Regions from separate parts of the Homo sapiens genome. Here region 2 is linked to region 1. The links come from fine-mapping of genetic effects on gene expression. Tissue or cell type: monocytes. Region 1 holds a variant in brackets; the other region holds the start of a gene. All regions are shown on one strand. Distances are between the middles of the regions.

What was found. PIP is the estimated chance that this variant, and not a neighbour inherited with it, causes the effect.
Region 2: it holds the start of DPYSL2, and the variant in region 1 is fine-mapped to the expression of DPYSL2 in monocytes (TOPMed, PIP 0.98).

The regions. Positions count from the first base shown.
Region 1 is chr8:26,567,832-26,574,228 of GRCh38, reverse strand. The region is part of intron 1 of DPYSL2 (dihydropyrimidinase like 2); the gene reads right to left. Among named protein-coding and RNA genes, the nearest start is that of DPYSL2, 57 kb to the right of the region's middle. The variant A/G (reference allele first, on the strand shown) is at 2,689.
Region 2 is chr8:26,511,052-26,517,448 of GRCh38, reverse strand. DPYSL2 (dihydropyrimidinase like 2) reads right to left here and starts at 3,418. Exons shown (of 14, transcript NM_001197293.3): 1 at 2,770-3,418. The coding sequence starts at 3,123. PNMA2 (PNMA family member 2) reads left to right here and starts at 3,577. Exons shown (of 3, transcript NM_007257.6): 1 at 3,577-3,633. RefSeq lists enhancers at 4,463-5,335, 5,122-5,416.

The DNA of each region.
Region 1 (6,397 bases):
CCTAAGCCGTTCTTTTCCCCTCCTTCCCTCTGAAACAACTGAAATGTTACCATGTCTATGAAGTTTTCCCCATCCTACCCCCACAGCCTTAAGCACTCCTTCCTGTGTTCAGCTCTGCTATAACACCATCACTCTATAATGACTTGCACATTTCTTCCATCAGGCCTTGACTCCTAGAAGCAAAAAGCCCCCTCTTCTCCCAGCTACCAGCACACTGCCTTGTCTCTGGCAGGTGCCCTTAACATTTTGTGCATAAATAAGTGCCATCATTGCTATGACGAGGACAAAGGTTCTTCCACCAAGGTGAGTTTTAATGTCAAAAAAAAAAAAAAATCCCCAATGCAAGCAAGCCTTTCCCTTAGGACTATCACTTTTTTTTTTTTTTTTTTTTTGAGGTGGAGTCTCACTCTGTCGCCCAGGCTGGAGTGCAGTTGCATGATCTTTGCTCACTGCAACCTCTGCCTCCCAGGTTCAAGTGATTCTCCTGCCTCAGCCTCCCGAGTAGCTGGGATTACAGGTGCCCACCACCACGCCCAGGTAATTTTTTTTTTTTTTTTTTTTTGAGACAGTCTTGCTCTGTTGCCCCAGGCTGTAGTGCAGTGGCGCAATCTCGGCTCACTGCAAGCTCCGCCTTCTGGGTTCATGCCATTCTCCTGCCTCAGCCTCTGAGTAGCTGGGACTACAGGTGCCTACCACCACGCCCAGCTAATTTTTTGTATTTTTTAGTAGAGACAGGGTTTCACCGTGTTTGCCAGGATGGTCTCGATCTCCTGACCTCGTGATCCACCCACCTCAGCCCCCCAAAGTGCTGGGATTACAGGCGTGAGCCACCGCGCCCGGCCACGCCCAGGTACTTTTTGTATTATTAGTAGAGATGGGGGTTTCACCATATTGGCCAGGCTGGTCTCAAACTCCTGACCTCAGGATCTGCCTGCCTCGGCCTCCCAAAGTTCTGGGATTACAGGCGTGAGCCACCACACCCAGTCAGGAATATCACTTTGCCGGGCCTTCCTTCTTGGCAGCCTCCCCTTCTCCAAGCCCCTGAAACTCCAGGAAGACCTAATGTTATTATTAACAGCTTATTATTCTCTGCGGGGCTGTAGCTGCCTAGATTTTAAGCTCCGCCTCCACTAACAAAACTGCTGTGTATCAGCAAGCCTGGTAGAACACGGAGACAGCACCCAATCCTAAAATGAAGGTCGAAGTCATACAAGGTGTCTCTAGTAATTTTTTCTCAATTTCTGAAACTGTCCTTTACTCCATCCTCCCATTATTCTTCGTACATCCCTGTGTGATCCCATTCATCGCAGTAAACCACCTACACAATACAATCCTCACCGACACCATAACTAGGTGAGTGTGATTTTTCTTCCATTCAAGGTTTGAGCTCACAGGGAAGAAAAACTCTTTCAAAAGTCTTACTCATTCCTGACCAGGCGCAGTAGCTCATGCCTGTAATCCCAACACCTGGGAGGCTGAAGTGGGCGGATCACCTGAGATCAGGAGTTCGAGACCATCCTGGCCAACATGGAGAAACCCCATCTCTACTAAAAATACAAAAACTAGCTGGGCGTGGTAGGGGACGCCTGTAATCCCAGCTACTCAGGAGGCTGAGGCTGGAAAATCACTTGAACCTGGGAAACGGAGGTTGCAGTGAGCCGAGATTGCGTCACTGCACTCCAGCTTGGGTGAAAGGGCGAGATTCCTTCTCAAAAACAAACAAAAAAGTCTTACTCATTCCTTATCCTTACAGAGGGCCTGACAAGGCTGGGGGCTCAAGCAGGACTGAATGCAGGGAGGGAGGTATGAGTGGAGGCACCCAGCCAGCCCTTTGCACATGTTTGCATCATCCAAACTGCAGGGAAGTGGGGCTGGGGAGATGCAGACATAACTCCAGTGCCTCGGGCGGCTGTGCTGCTCTCAGTTCCTCAGCATCTGCCCGGAACGTGTTCCCTCCCTGACTAGCCCACTGCTGCTCTTGGTTTCATGTTCCCCTTTGGGGAGCTAGAGTAGCCATTTCTGCTTCTGTGGCGCCCTGGGTCTCTGCGTTAGTGCAATGTTCAGAATTTCACAGAGTAGGGGAACTCCAGAGCAGAAACTGCTGACAAAACAGAGCCCAGAGGTGGCAAAGAAAATCCCCAATGCCCAGAGTGCTGCAATTGGATGCCAAGGGCTGTGGCCTCTAACACAGCCTGCAGAGAAGGTTGAAATGAATGCGGCAGTAAAGAGAAGGTACTGGAATCCTTCTTTGCCAAAACAAAGGGCATTGACTAGGACACTTGAGCTGGAAGTGATGCCTTCTTCACTGCAGATGGAATCAGGCAATGACGATCGTTTTCTTTGTGTGTGTAGCTCTGAAGGGTCAGAGACTGCAGATTGGATCGGAACCTGCCCACTGCCTTCCCCTGTGGCTGCATCCTTTTAGCAGCAGTGACAGTGGTGACAAATGAGGGTCAGCAGTGACTGGCCCTCCGAAACAGACGCTGCTTTGGCTAGAACTGTACAGACTGCCGGCCAGCATGGGGGCTCTGCTAGGATTCTGAGGACACATCCTCCCTGCAGGAAGACAAGAAGCTCATCTGTCCAAATCCTGCTGGACAAGAGGGCACAGAGGAAGCATGCACTTCACAGAATCTAGTCGACTCGGGCTTTCTCTTATCCCCAGTTAGCGCACACACCTCCTGAAGA[A/G]CTCCTGCAATGCCCACCCTGCACCTCATTCTCTGGGTGGCTACAGATGTTCCCTGGGGTCTTTCTATCCCTGATGGGGACAAAGGGCACCTAGCTCAGCCATCGTGCCTCAGGCCTGCCCTCTGGTGGCGAACAAAGAGTGTGCACGTGGTCCCCTGCGTGCTGGTCTCCAAGCCAGGGCAGGGCCTTGGAGATCACTTGTTTCCGTTGGTGTGCCCAAGTACTCCCCTCCATCAGAATCACCCTGGGCCCCAGCTCAGACATCCTGAACAGAATATCCGGAGGTAAGGTCCAGGAAGGTTTTTAAACTAGTCTACTTCTGGACACTTAGCGACAGATCCAGCCCACTCCACCCTCTATTTATAGAAGGAGGAAAACATGGACTAGGAGGAAGGGCTCACTCCCTACCTAGTGAGGGGTCCACTCACCACAGGGCATCACTGGTCTGCTCTTTGTCCAGGGGGAACATTATGAAAGAGTGGTAAATATTATCCCTCTCATTCCACTTGTCTGCCTTCTGGAAACAGTACAATCTTCTAAAATACTGTTATGTTGTCAGTGAGGAGGAAATTAACATGTATTGAGCACCTACCATGCTCTAAGCATAGCACTGAGTGCTTTAAATACATCTGCTTTAATCTTCTCCAAAATCCTACTGGGTAAATCTTCAGATCCTCATTTTATAGACGAGGAGAGAAAAGCACAAAGAAACCTCTTGTTCCAGGCCCAGATTCTAATTTGGGTCTGTGTGACCCCAAAGCCCAAGGGGCTAGTTCTTTTTTTTTTTTTTTTTTTTTTTCCTTTTCTAAGACTGAGTCTCACTCTGTTGTCCAGACTGGAGTGCAGTGGCGTGATCTCAACTCACTGCAACCTCTGCCTCCTGGGTTCAAGTGATTCTCATGCCTCAGCCTCTCAAGTAGCTGGGATTACAGGTGCCCACCACACCTGGCTAATTTTTGTATTTTTAGTAGAGATGGGGTTTCACTATGTTGGCCAGGCTGGTCTCGAACTCCTGACCTCGTGATCTGCCCACCTCAGCCTCCCAGTGTTGGGATTACAGGCATGAGCCCCCGCGCCTGGCCAAGGCTAGTTCTTTTAATGGTAAGGTACTTGTTTAGTAGAAACTGGGACCCACCTTGTGCAAGAGGTAGGCACAGGTGATCGGCTGTCTTTCTTTACTCCTTCCACTGTCCCCAGTCCACATTCCTTAGATGTTTCCCCTTCTCCCGAAATCAATTCTCCATCTCTTTCTTTCCTCATAACCCAGTGTAACTCAGTTTCACTCAGTGGCTCTGGCCCTCCCCTCATAGGAAACATGACAGACGAACATAAAGGTTTAAATGAATGATAAATGCTCAGTGTGCTACTCCTCTGCTAAAAAGAGAAGACCCTGGTTAGTAGAATTTCAGACACCAAGCCAGGCTGCTTGCATAAATAAAATGCAAACCGTTTATCAAGTCTGCTGCGTGTGATCTTGCCCTTCTTTTTTAAATTTTTTACTTTTATTTTTAGTAGAGACAAGAGTCTCACTATGTTACCCATGTTGGTCTCAAACTCCTGGCCTCAACTGATCCTCCTAAAGTGCTCAGATTACAGGTGTGAGCCACCGCGCCCGACTGATCTTACCCTTCTATTCCTTTCCAGCTTCATCCTGTGTTACGTCCCCAAGCTCTCTCATGCCATAGCACACTGATGTCCTTCCTTTCCCTGCAATGGCCCTTTGTGGCTGCTGTTCTCTCTTCTCCCATCTCTCCTTCTTGCCCATGCATCCCTGCTTCAGGGAGGCCCTCCATGACCTCCCTCCTGATGCCAGCCCATGTACTCCTACTCTTCCTTGTCTCAGCACTATCTCTTTAATAGCAACAATTATAATTTGGAAGTATTTTTGTGCATTTGTTTACTTGAGTATTTCCAGTCTGTCTCTACTTCTCAATTGCAAAGCCCCTAAACCACCTAGTCCTCCACTCCACCTTACAGTGACCGCACAACACTCAACAAACAAGAGTTAAATGACAAATGAACAGGAGAACCTTTCTAAAGATACCTGTTCTTCAGCCCAGGTGACCGAGGCTTCATCTTCCACCTGTTGCCTCCCAGATATGCACCTGCCATTCTCTAATCCTGATTCATCCCAGGCTTTGGGTTTTTCTTTGGTTTTTTTTTGTTTTTGTTTTTGTTTTTTTTTTGGAGATAGGGTCTTGCCCTGTCACCCAGGCTAGAGTGCCGTGGCATGAGCATAGCTCACTGCAGCCTCAAACTCCTAGGCTCAAGCGATCTGCCTCAGCCTCCCACATAACTGGGACTACAGGCATGCATCACCATGCCTGGCTAAGTCTTTTTATCTTTTGTGTAGACAGGGTCTTGCTATGTTGCCCAAGCTGGTCTGGAACTCTTGGGCTCAAGCAATCCTCCTGTCTCGGCCTCCCAAAGCAGTGGGATTACAGTTGGGGGCCCTCACGCCTAGACTTCACCCCAGGCTTTTAAAAGACCAGATGGTGAGGATTCACCTGACTGGATGAGGTCTCATGGCCTAGGTTCTAATGATCCAAGGCAGAGCGAGCAGATTCCTTTTCTACTGGGATCTGTCCTTGGGAAGCATCAAGCCTCACATTCACAAAGCTCAGCTGTGCCTGGAGGTCCAATCATGATAACTGCAGCCGGGTTCCTCTTTTCAATCCCGCACTTCAGGCTTGTACTCACCACAGCCAGAAAATACCGCAGATCTCCCTCAACTGGGCCCTCCTTGATTCAGAATCTGTGTCGATTCTGAAAACGGCCAAGGAAAAGGGGTAACTATGAACTCTGAAAGTGTAAATAACATTTCAGGAGTTTTCATCTCTTAAAAGAATCCGCCATGATCAATGTACTGAAAACTGCTCACTCATCCAAAAACACGCCATGGTTCTTGGCCATTTGTCCATTTCGGTTCCCTAGAGGACACTTTGGGGCAATTTATTAGCTTAGTCTGTGAATGCTTGAAAGTAGTCCATTTGGATATTGTAAAGATTTAACAAAATTCTGACCTTTCCTGTAAATAAATTGGTCCTCTTTCTGCCCTCCTTACTCCCCCACCCTGTTTGTTTTCAAGGAGTGAGAATTTATTACTGACCTTGTGTGCCAGCTCTCAGGAGACCAAGGGGGATCAGGAGATGTTTACAAGTTCCCCATACACAGTCCCCCTCTTGTAGTACAACGCTGTAGAAAGAGAGGTCACAGGTGAATGGCACGTGATGCTTTACCAATGCTTTACCAGCTCCAGGCAAACTGTGCCCCTCTACCTAGGCTTGGGCTGGGGGCTCTCCACCCCCACAGTGTCATCAACCCAACGACTGGTCTCCCTCCAGCTTCTGGGCACTTCCACTGTCTTGAGGAACCAGACAGAATTCTTCCTATCTTCCTATCAAGCAGATAAGGAAATCATTGAAAGAATAAACAGCCGAATGCAGTTGTGCTGTTAGTAACCATCAGTCTCATTTGTGGGCTTTAAACTAAATTCTACATCTGTGGGCAGTGTGTAACTCCTGTGGGCACTGCCAAACCAGTGGAGGAATGAGTGCCTGCATATGTCCCTCGGGGCTCAGGAGTTCTCTCTGTTTCTTCAGAGAATTAGAAATGGAGGTAGGATAGTAAAAAGACCACTTTAAAGGGACAGGGCACTGATGGAAGAAAATAACACTGGAGCCTGGAGAGACTAAGTGGGAATTGATGC
Region 2 (6,397 bases), 57 kb after region 1:
AGAGTAACAAGATAGAGGCTTTCCTCATTCACAACCACTATGCCAGCTCTTTTCCTCCGCCAAAATCTGACATGCCGAGTCAAGCCACACCCATCGCTTTCTGGTGCTGTCTGGCTCATACTCTGAATATAATTTCATTTAGTTCCTGCAAATGCACATGTCCAACATCTCTCATCTTCCATGAGCCATGTGGCATGTGGGTCAAGGAAGCCTATTCTCTCCCTTCCCAAAGCCTTGTTAGGGGAACAGCAGGCCTCTTAGTGCAACAGATGAGCAAAGCCACATCTGACCATACATTAGTAACACATAAATAAAGCTGCAAGAGAGGAGGGATGGTGTGAGTCAGGGTCCCAGGATCCACCCATTCTCAATCTCCCCCACCTTTCTCTGCGTCAGGGCTTCCAATTAGAATGCACAGAGATGCTGGCACTCACCCAACTCATTCGTTGAAAACCAACTAATGACAAGTCAACTCAGTCAAAATGGTGGGCCAGTTGAGCTTTTCGGAAGTCACATTGTTATAAATATAAACACATGTATAGCCACAGCCTTTCCCCTTTTCTAAAGACATGAAATATTGAAACATTGCAAGTACTGATCCAGGTAAATGCTCTTAGTCGTGAATGACAAAATCTCATTGAGTAGGCCTTATATGATAAGGCAAGATTAAACATGAAAATTCAGGGGAAGGTGCTGCAGAAAGGCCAAGCTAGAATCGCCCTCTGTTACTAATAACTGGGCAACTGAAATCAATGTGAATTGCAATCTAAAACTCCCTTGCAGTTTGTTTGAGTATTTTCTCTTCAAATCTCCCCCTCTGCGTGCCTTAGTTTTACAATTTAGAATTTCATATATCTAAGCTTCTAAATGGCCAAGAAAAAAGAAGTGTTATTCAACCCGATAAAACTATGCCTTTCAAACTTGAGTTCTAATTCATGATAGGGGTGGGCCACTTTCAACCCCTATCCTCTGATCTGCCACTTTTTACATGATTTCTTCTTTATTCTCCAGTTGTTTTTCTGCTTTCTCTAGGACATCACAATCACCAGCACAACTCGCCATGCATGAGGCTACTCACTCAACCAAGATGCTATATGATTTTGGCCCTCACTCAATGTACTCACACAGGGAAGTGTTTCACACACACTCACTCAGCTTTCAGTATAAGTTACATTATTAGAAACTTTTACTTCAATTGTCTGATCACTTGGAACAAAGCAAGTTTTTTGGATTTAGTTTCTTCTGGTTGACTCATAGTGAAATATGGATATGAGACACTCCCTTATATGAATAAATTAGAGGGCAGGGCTGGGGTTGGATATAAATTATTAGTTGTGTCACCTTTTACAAATGACAGCAAATGCCTTGTTTTTCCTAGACTTGACCCTACAAAAGTCAAAAGCTGCAAAACTCTATGTCACATCAGCAAACAGTCAAATCATGCCCCAACCATCATCACCAATTCTGAATTGTTCTCAAAGGCTGTCACTGTAAGTACACAAATGTAAATGCTTGTGGAATCCCTCGCTGAATATGTATAGACCACTCCCAACTACTCTGGAAGCCCTCTGAGAAGAAGAAACCTCTTGCACTTTCTATAACTAACCTTCCCTCTGCCCTACAAGGCAAGGCGCACAATAGGTATTCAATCAACAATCATTCATTGATTGACTTATTATTTTTACCAGCAGGCATGGGAGAGAAACGGAAAACGTGTTAAAACATTTTGCATTGTAAATTATCAGTTAAGAAATTAAGGCTGTGGAAAAGAATTACACTAGTGTAAGGATCACTCAGATAAAGAAAGAATTGTGGTGTGAGATTATTACTGCGCTGAAAATGCTCACTGTTCATATTTGTCAGAAAGTGACAAACATTTTCTAAAATCAAGCGTGACCAAATTGGCCTTTGTTTCCCCCATTAACACAATAAAAGGGGGTTTAGTCTTCTTCGACAGTCTATTTCGAGTGCGAGGGGTTTTCCCCCTTTTCTTGTCTTTTTGACCCTTTGAACATAATCCACTTAGTTCCCCGCTTCCTAAAGCGCCTCCCACATAGCGGTTTGGGGAGCGCTCTGTGAAGCCCCGGCTGAGACACTTATTGGAACTTTGTTCCCCACATAGGCTATTTAGGAGCGTCTCGGTTTCCTCGGGTGACTCCACAGCCTTCCTGGCTCTTCTCACGCTGCGAGCAGGAGTCAAGGGCGGTGCGGTGCTCGGAGGGGGTCCGGGGGGCGCTGACCATGGTCCTGGCCTCGGAGCTCGGGACGTGAGCGCAGAAGGCGCGGGCGGAGGCTGTAGGGAGCGGCCGTCCGAACCCCCGCCCCTCCCGACCACCGGGGAGCCGCGGGCCTTCACGCAAAGCCTCCACCGCACGCTCTGAGCCGCTCAAAAAAAGGGTGGGGCACCCAGCCGCAGCTGCAATCGGAAGCCGCCCGGGAGGGTTTCAGAAGAATGGAACCGCGGCCAACCCCCTCCCAGACGACCACCGCCCGCCCCAGCAGGGGATCAGCCCATTCCCTATGCCCACGCCCCACCTCTCAAGCTCAAGGAGACGCGGGCAGCCTTTGTGGGCGCACGGCCGCCCACCGCCCAGCCCGAGCCTCGCCGCACCCTGCGCGGAGAAGGGGCGGGTAGGGCGGGGTGCGCGTGCAGATGCGGGAGGCGAGGTCCAGGGCGGGGCATGAAGGCGGGCGCGCCGGGCTCAGGGGCGAGGGAGGGGCGATCCCCGCGCCCCGTCCTCCGTCTCCACCCCCAACCCCCACACCGACCTGGTCGTTGATGTTCTGCAGGGCTTCTTTGCCCGAGGCCCTCCGGATCTCCACCTTCCGGCCCGATTCAACAGATGGCTCTCCGCCGGCGCGCCGGCCCTGCCGCGAGTACGGCGGCTGCGGGTCCGGGCCCAAGTGGGCGACGTCCCGCTGCTGAGCCACCACCTGCCCCGAGCCCCGGCCCACCGACAGCGAGTCGAAGTCGATGGTCTTGTTCTCCGAGGACCCTTCCACCGGGCAGAACATGCCACAGAATTTCTGCCGGGGCTTGGGGCTGCCGGAGCCCAGGTTTTTAAAAAAAGCAGGGACCTCTTCGTCCTCTGCCGCCTTCCCGGATTGCTTTCTCTCGGCCATGGCTCGGGGGCTCGGGTAGGGTCCTCGCCGTCCGTCCGTCCGTCTGCCAGTCCCTAAGTCTCCCTCGCTGTGTGCACAAGCCCCCTAGCTGCTGCCGCGGCTGCCGTTCGCCGCCCACCGCAAGGTGCACAGAAAGGAAGGAGGGCTGGCGAGCCGGCGACCCACCCTCCCGGTCCCTCCCCCTGACCCCGCTTCTCCCCTCCCTGCCCACGCCCCCCGCGGCTACAGCGCGAGCTCGGGGAAGCGGCAAAGTTGGATCTGGGAGGGCGTCCGCTGCGGCTGCGGGAGCCGAAAGGCTGCCAGTTCCCGGCAGCGCTGGGAGGAGGGAGGCGCGGGCGGGGCGCGGCGCCGGGGAGGGGAGCGGTGCTCAGGGGAGGGCTGGAGGGGAGGGAAGGAGAGAGAGAGGGGAGGGCGGCACCGCCCCTAGCCCCGCGCTCCGGAAGTGAAGCGGCCAGACCACCAGCTAATGGATGCGGAGCGGAGGGCCCGCTGACCGCTCTCCGCGCCTGGGTAAGTATCGGGCAGGGCACGCGGAGTGAGGACCGGAGGACGCAGCCCCCAGCCCCAGTGCCCCTCTCCTCCACCTGCCTGGCCCAGGCGCCTCTGCCCCGCCGCATGGCGGAGGTGGGCCGGGGGCGAGGGCGCACTGTGGATAGGGGTCCCGCCCCGTTACCCTGGGTGTGAGCTGATGGATGGGAAAAGGGGACAAGCCGGGCGCCAGGCTACTCAGGGTGTGGGAAGCGGGATGGCACTGAAGATGAGCAAGGATAGCACAGGCAGGGTGGACAGGAGGGGGGCAGCCAAGACGCTGGACACCCCAGCTTCAGTTTGTCCACTCGCCTTGGCAGGCTGCAGGGAGCAGAGACTGAAACGAGAAGGTTCCCGCTTCGTGCATCCACTTTGGTGTGGTTGGGGTGACGGGGGAGTGGGGGGGGGGCACACAACATGGCGGGAAGAAATTCAGAGGGGCGTAGCAGATGGGAGAGGAATATAGAGAGAGACGCAGGTCTGCGGTCTATGGGGGTGTAGCAAAGAGTGCAGTCGGGAATTCCAGCCCAGGGCCACGACTTAAAGACGGGGTGCAGACCGACTCTATTGCGCAAGGCGCCATGGACCGTGTCTGCGCCACTGCGCCAAGAAGGGCGCAGGAACGTGTCGCGATTTGGTTTATTCTGCTTCCTCCACCAAAAAAAAAAAAAAAAAAAAAAAAAGAGAGAAAAAACAAACTGAAACCCCCTTCCCAAATCTCCAGCTTTCCCCTGCGCCCCAGAGCCCCGCCTGGTTCCCCCGCCCCTGTTGCGCACTGCGCCACAGTCGCAGCGTTTCCCGGGTTACCAGATGCCACGTGTTTGGGGAGTAAGTGCGGGTGCGCATCTGGTGCGGAGTAGGAGGTAGGATGTGGGCTGTGAGTGCCATGAATTGTGTGGGGCCAAGCAGGGGAAAGGTGTGTAGGAACTTGGTGTGTGTGTGCAGTAGCTGAGCCACGGCCACCGGGTTGGTAAGTAACCAGGGGGCAATTAGATTTGTGTGCCTAACACGGTCAATGCTGGTCCTTCATTGCTTATTCCCATCTCCACGTCCTTTCCGCGTATCAGTCCCTGCCTCTGCGCGATGACAGCTCCGCCTCTCTTTCCACAGTGGCAAAATCCTGCAGAAATGGTGCCCCTCCTTTGGTGGCCCGGGAGGGAGTTCTGGGCATGCTCAGTAACCAGGGTGGGTTTGGGCTGAGAGGCCGTTTACCGCAGGGCCACCGCGTAGGGCCGTGTAACCAGGGATCCAGTCCCATTGTCAGCCCAGGATTAAATGCGGTTACCAACCACCCCCACAGTCCAATTGTGAGAGATAGTTTGGTGAATATAGTTACATCTGCTGGACAATCAGTCGCAATTTGAAGATCAGCCCATCTTGATAGGTGGAAAGGCGTCTCCGGATGAGAAACAGACTGGGGAAGAAGAATATAGGAGTGGAGGGGCTGAGAGAACCGGAGGGGGCATTTTGGACTTAGCGGCAGATGTGCTTTGCATTTGAATAAAGCATTTGAAAAAAGCGCTTCCAACTGAATTACATCATTTCCTACTCACAGCCCCACTGTGAGATGCGTGCCTTATCAGCACTGCTTTCCAGGTTAGGAAACAGATTTAGAGAGCTTGGGGCGCATAGCCAAGGTTGGGTATTTAGTTAAATGATCCAGCAATTCCAGTGGGAGTCTTCCACCTCAAAGTCTGGCTTCTTTTCCAGCTTGTCCTGTGACCCCCTTTATGTGAGAAAATACAAGGTTCTTCTATTTCTACCGTATCCAGATATTTCCATCCATGGCCCTATTGTATATCAAGGGTGTTTCTTGCCATGTTTTTATTTGAAGGTAACACTGCAGGTCACACTGGGAGGAAGAGTCATCTGAAGATAGCCTAACTTCAGCATAGCAGTCATTCTGTAGACCATAGAGATGCTTTTTCCTGGGCAGTGTCTTTTTACATTCCCTGTTTCCTCTAAATATCCCAGTGGGGAGGAAGGTTGCCCCCAGCTGGTTTTTTTATTTTTGTTTTTGTTTTCAGACAGAGTCTCACACTGTCACCCAGGCTGGAATGCAATGGTGCAAACGCAACTCACTGTAGCCTTGACCCACTCGGCTCAAGCAGTCCTCCCTCCTCAGCCTCCCAAGTAGTTGGGACTACAGGCGAGTGCCACACGCCCAGCTAATTTTTTTATTTTTCCTTTTTGTAGAGACAGGGTCGCACTATGTTGCTGGTCTCAAACTCCTGGGCTCAAGTGATCCTCCCGCTTTGGCCTCCCAAAGTGCTGGGTTTACAGGTGTAAGCCACTGCACCTGGCCCTCCCCCACAGTCCCCACATTTTAGAAAGGAAAAGTCAGGCATGGAGAAGTCAGCAGTCTCAGGTCTCTGGGGCTCCTGGGCACAGGGGTGAAGCAGCATTTTGCCCTCCTGGCTCTCTGGCACCCCTGGTGCCTTCAGCACTTCCCAGAAGACTCAGGAGATCTTCCCACAGCAGGAGCACTGCTGATAGAGTTACAGGACAGCACTGTGGCGTATGGCCCCCATTCGAATTGATGAAGATGTTTAGGCCAAGGGGGAAATGGTTGTAGCCCCTTAACACACACTCCGCAGCAGTAACTGGGAGGTATTAGGAACTCTAACTTTTTTTTTTTTTTTTTTTGAGACAGAGTCTTGCTCTGTTACTCAGGTTAGAGTGCAGTGGTGCAATCGTGGCTCACTGCAACTTCCGTCTCCCAGGTTTAAGCGATTCTCCTGCCTCA